Linked DNA regions of Homo sapiens: region 1 is linked to region 2. Evidence: fine-mapped expression QTL. A gene starts in region 2. The other region holds a variant in brackets. All regions are shown on one strand. Distances are between the middles of the regions.

The links. PIP is the estimated chance that this variant, and not a neighbour inherited with it, causes the effect.
Region 1: its variant is the best candidate, but not a certain one, in a credible set for the expression of PORCN in whole blood (TOPMed, PIP 0.60).

What each region holds. Positions count from the first base shown.
Region 1 is chrX:48,527,844-48,530,749 of GRCh38, reverse strand. It overlaps EBP (EBP cholestenol delta-isomerase), which reads right to left. Exons shown (of 5, transcript NM_006579.3): 5 at 2,034-2,516. The coding sequence ends at 2,293. Among named protein-coding and RNA genes, the nearest start is that of EBP, 7.5 kb to the right of the region's middle. The variant T/G (reference allele first, on the strand shown) is at 1,673.
Region 2 is chrX:48,507,362-48,510,267 of GRCh38, reverse strand. PORCN (porcupine O-acyltransferase) reads right to left here and starts at 1,276. Exons shown (of 15, transcript NM_203475.3): 1 at 1,165-1,276; 2 at 312-484. The coding sequence starts at 447. It overlaps PORCN-DT (PORCN divergent transcript), which reads left to right and starts at 1,429. Exons shown (of 2, transcript NR_135596.1): 1 at 1,429-1,549. RefSeq lists a silencer at 1,050-1,449.

The DNA.
Region 1 (2,906 bases), 20 kb before region 2:
GTGGGTGGATCATCTGAGGCCAGGAGTTCAAGACCAGCCAGGCCAACATAGTGAAACCCTGTGGTTGCAGTGACCTGAGATCGTGCCGTTGCACTCCAGCCTGGGCCACAGAGCAAGACCCTGTCTCCAAAAAAACAAAAGAGAGTTTTGGGCTGCTGGGATGGGGGTGAAGGTATTTTGCATGCAAGGACATGAATTCTGGGAGGCCAGAGAGAGCAGAATGTTATAGACTGAACTGTGTCCTCCCCAAATTCATATGTTAAAGCCCTAACCCCCAATACCACAGAATGTGACTATATTTGGAGATAGGGACTTTAAAAGGGTGGTTAAGTTAAAATGGGACTCATAGAGTGGGCCTAATCCAATACAAATGGTGCCCCCCACTTTTTTTTTTGGGACAGAGTCTCACTCTGTTGCCCAGACTGGAGTGCAGTAGTGCCATGATGTTGGCTCACTGCCACCTCAACTTCCCAGGTTCAAGTGATTCTCCTGCCTCAGCCTCCCAAGTAGCTGGGATTACAGGCATGTGCCACCATGCATGGCTAATTTTTGTATTTTTAGTAGAGATGGAGTTTTACCATGTTGGCCAGGCTGGTCTCAAACTCCTGACCTCAGGTGATCCACTTGTGTCAGCCTGGGATTATAGGCATGAGCCACTGTGCCTGACTGGTGCCCACCCCCCACCTCCTTTTTTTTTTTAAGACAGGCTCTCACCGTGATCATGGCTCACTGCAGCCTACACCTCCCTAGCTCAGATGATCCTCCCACCGTGGCCTCATGATGCCCAGCTAATTTTCAAAATTTTTTTTGTAGAGATGGGGTTTCACCATGTTGCCCAGGCTGGTCAAATGGTGTCCTCATAAAAGGAAATTTGGGCTAGGCATGGTAGTTCACACCTGTAGTCTCAGCTACTTGGGAGGCTGAGGTGGGAGGACCACTTGAGCCTAGGAGTTTGAGATCAGCTTGGGCAACATAGTGAGACCCCATCTCTACAAAAAATTGAAAAAATATTGCCGGACATGGTGGTTCACACCTGTAATCCTGGCACTTTGGGAGGCAGAGGCGGGTAGATCACCTGAGGTCGGGAGTTCGCGACCAGCTTGACCAACATGGAGAAACCCCGTCTCTACTAAAAATACAAAATTAGCTGAGCATGGTGGCACATGCCTGTGATCCCACCTACCCGGGAGGCTGAGGCAGGAGAATTGCTTTAACCCAGGAGGCAGAGGTTGTGGTGAGCCAAGATCGTGCCATTGCACTCCAGCCTGGGCAACAAGAGTGAAACTCCGTCTCAAAAAAAAAAAACAAAACAAAAATTAGGTATAATGGCATGTGCCTGTTGTCCCAGTTACTTGGAAGGTTGAGGTGGGAGGATCACTTGAGCCCAGGTGTTTGAGACCAGCCTGGGCAACATAGTGAGAGTCCATTGCTATAAAAAAAAATAAATATAGCCATGTGTGGTAGTGCACACCTGTAGTCCCAGCTACTTAGGAGGCTGAGGCAGGAGGATCGCTGGAGCCAGGGAGGTAGAGGCTGCAGTGAACCATGATCATACCACTGCACTCCAGCCTGACACAGAGCGAGGCCCTGTCTCAAAAAAAAAAAAAAAAAAAGGAAATTTGGACACACAGAGAGACACCAGGGACAGGGACGCTAGTTCATAGAGACCATG[T/G]GAGGACACTGAGAAGGTGGCCACCTGCAAGCTACGGACAGGGGCCTCAGGAGAAGTCAAACCTGCTGACACCTTGATCTTGGACTCCAGAACTGTGAGAAAATGAACTTCGGTGGTTTAAGCCTAGTCTGTGGCATTCTGTTATGGCAGCTCGAGTTAAGACCAGGGGACTGTGGGGCCAGTGATAGGGTCTGTGTAGTGAGTTATGGGGTCTGGCGGGGGGTCAGTGATAGGGGTTTGTGAGGTCAGAGGTGGGAGGTCTTTAGATGCTGATGGGGGTCTGGAATAAGTGAATGATGGTGGGATCTGTGGGGTCAGTCATAGCGCATCTCTGGGGTTAGTAATTAAGGATCTCTCAGTGTTAGAGTCAAGATCTTTTATTTCCTGATTTTAAAAATCGTCACCATCATAGACCTCCTGGCTTCTCTTGTATCTGTGTTCTAATGGCTCCCAGCAGTGCCTTCACACAGCCCCTTTATTCCCCTTCTTGTGCCTGCCCATGAGCCTGAGTGTGACAGATCAATTAGCTTTGTCCCTCCAAACTGTGGGAGCAGGACTAGACTCTTCTGGCAGGCAGAGAGCTCCTCCTCGGCCAGTGTTCGAGCCTGGTCCACCACTCCTCAGTTCTTCTTGCTCTTGGCTTTTGTGGCCTTGGCATCCAGCGTGCTCTGGGCATGAGTGAGGTGCTTCACAGCATCAAGCACAAGGACTCCAGGCAGCACCAGCCACAGGGCATTCATGAAGACAAAGTAAAACCAGAAGTAGAGAGGGTGGCCCAGCTCTCCGTGCTGGAATCCGTCGCGGTGCTCTGTCAGGAAGTAGAGCACATCCCCATAGATCTGGCCTGTGGGTGGCAGGAGGGGAAGGAGAAGCCCCAGTGAGGAAGGGGACACTTTCGCCAATTCTCTATTCCAAAGCACTTTCCAAGTCATCATTCAAGGTCTCAGAGCTAAGTATTCTGAAATCACAGAGCTGAAAATCTGAGAAATCAGAAAAGTGAGATTCCAGACACCAGAGAGCTGAGAATTTCAGAACTCAGGAGAGCTCACACCTTCAGATTTAAGGAAGTTCAAAATCCTCAAATCCAAGACAGCTTAGGATTCTGGGACTAAAGATAACTCATATCGCTAGAACTAAAGAAAGCTAACAATTTAATAACACAAGATGACTGAGGCCGGGCACAGTGGCTCACACCTGTAATCCCAGTACTTCGGGAGGCCAAGCCAGGAGGACT
Region 2 (2,906 bases):
TTTCAGAATCCCAAGATCCAAGAATCTCAGCTTTCTGGAATCCCAGAACTCAGGAATACTGAAGGGCATGGCTTGGCATGGCAGGATGTGGCTCGGTGTGGCATGGCATGGGGTGGCTGGCATAGTAGGATGTGGTATGGTGGAATGGGGTTTGGCCTGGTGGGATGTGGTGGGGCTGAACATGTTGGGGTCCAGCTTGGACATGCTAGGGCCTGGCAGGATGTGACAGGGTAAGGTGTGGCTCGATATGGATGAATGTGGGAGGTCTGATATGGCCTGGCATGGTGGCACACGGTATGGCAGGCACTTACCGAGCCTCCAGAGGAGGCGGCAGGCGAGGCAGATGGCAAGGAGCAGCCAGATCTGGTCAAGGCCCTGCTGGGCAGTAGGCAGGAGACAGCCTTGCAGTAGCTGCTGGAAAAATTCCTGGCGGCTAAAGGTGGCCATTGCAGACCCCCACGGATGGATGGCCAGATGGATAGATCTGTCAAAGCAGGGACACAGAGGGAGCGGGTGTCCGTGGGGCAGACCTCGCTTAAAGGATGCACTCTGGCACTCACATTTCAGTTTGGGGCTGCCCAGCCCATGTAGAGGCACGGTACTGGAGGACTGGGGGAAGGCGTGAGAAGTCAGGTACATCAGACTGAGCCACCAACTGTGTGCATGTGGGTGTTCGGCATGCACACGCACAGCCTGTGACCTGGAGTGAATGAAGGACCTCTGTCTCTCCAGTGCTGTGAACAGTCCAGTCCGATGGTGATGGGATGGCATACATTTCAGGCCCATATATCAAATGGGGCGGGCGACGGGAAGGGGAATCCCTGGTTTCCAAGGTAGAGTCGCTCTGAGTGGAGGGCAGAGAGGGGGATTCTGTGACACTTGGGGGCCGTGTGCATCTCTCCTTGTATGGATGCGGCGGCACGGGGAGGGGGGGTGTCCTGTATCCTCCGCGCCCCCCATCTCATCCCCACCCGGCGAGAGGCCGCCAACAAAGTCCTGCCCAGGTCCGGGGGCTGCAAGGAGGTGGTGGTAGGAGACATAGCCTGAGGGAGAGTCGGAAAGGTGATGGGGAGGGGGTCCTAGCACTCGCGCTACAGATCCGCCTGGGGAGGCCGGCCCAGGGATGGGAGCTGGGGAGCCGCGTGCGCACTACTGGCGACCTACCTGGCAGGAAAGAAGCCGTGGTCCTGGGGACCGAGGACGCGCTGCCGCCGCCGCTGCCTCCTCCGGGCAGCCTCCCCCGCAGGCCGCAAGGCCGGGACCAGCAGCGGCTCCCAGAGCGGCGCGGCGAGCGGGCCCTTTAAATCCCGGGGCGGCCCGGCCGCCGGCTCGGCCAATGGGAGAGCAGGAGGGGGGCGGGGACGGGGACGCGGAGGAGGGGAGCAGGAGGATTGAGGGGAGACCGGCGCGGGGGGACGTCGGCGCGCAGGACGTTCACGCCCGCACCTTTCCGGCCTGTGGCGGTTTCAGCCCCAGACCGTCTGCCTCCGGAGGATTTCTGGCCATCCAAGAACAAACTTCCGAATCTCCAAATTTCCAAGCCTTGGAAGTGAGAAGGGAAAGATGGGGGAGGGAGGAGGGAAGCCGCTGCACCCCCAAATAGTCACCCGCGCACGTCCTCTAAATACCGTGGTGTCCCCGTTTCACAGATGGGAAAACAAACCGAGATCTCTCCTTCCCCAACCTTTGAGAGAACCGAAGTAACTCCCAACCCTCCCACCTCCTGGGACCGGCCAGGAACATTTATAAGTAATGACTGTGTCACCTAGGAACACAAATTAGGCGCCTGTGCTTCCCCTGGGGACGAGCTGTGAGCACTTGGCGTGTCGTCGTTGAGAAGTGATTTGCATGCTTAATTCCCCAGCAGACTCTTTGCTTCGAAGGTGACCCCAGCGACTAGTAAATGTTCTCTGTGAACTAGAGGGAGGCTAGTACCGAGCACTTAAAAGGGGGGCATTTATAAAGCTCTTAAGGGCCAGGCTCGGTGGCTCACGCCTATAAACCCAGCACTTCGGGAGGCCAAGGGTAGGAGGATAGCTTGAGGTCAGGAGTTCGAGACCAGCCTGGCCAACATGGCGAAACCCCGTCTCTACTAAAAATACAAAAATTAGCCAGGCGTGGTGGCGCACGCTTGTAATCCCAGCTACTCGGGAGGTTAAAGCAGGAGAATCAGGAGGCAGAGGTTGCAGTGAGCCAAGATCGCGTCATTGTGGGCTACAAGAGCGAAACTCCGTCTCAAAATAAATAAATAAAGACTGGGCGTGGTGGCTCACACCTGTAACCCAGCACTTTGGAAGGCCGAGGCGGATGGATCACCTGAGGTCATGAGTTTGAGACCAGGCTGGCCAATATGGCGAAACCCTGTCTCTACTAAAAATACAAAAAATTTAGCTGGGCGCCTGTAATCCCAGCTACTCCGGAGGCTGAGGCAGGAGAATCACTTGAGCCCAGGAGACGGAGGTTGCAGTGAGCCGAGATCACGCCATTGCACTCCAGCCTGGGTGACAAGAGCAAAACTCCTTCTCCAAAATAAATAAATAAATAAACAAGAGCGAAACTCCTTCTCTAAATAAATAAATAAATAAAATAAAAAAGAAAGCGCTTACACTGGCCCCATCCGCACCTCTATCTGCACCAACACTAAAGATTTATGTAGCACCCGCCTTCTACCTACCCTACTGCTGCAGTTTCTAGGCATTCCCCTTTGTACCTAGGCTGATGAAGGGCCTATTTTTCCAAAAGAGCACTTACTGGGCGCTTACTGCACTACATGCTTAGCTGTGACGTGGAAGGGAGAAGGAAGCCCAGGTCAAACTGGACGCCACCCTGACCTGGGCAGCCAACTGAAACAGATTTTAATCAGATTAACAATGGCCTGTATGGAGCTGGGCAAGTCATGTTCACTC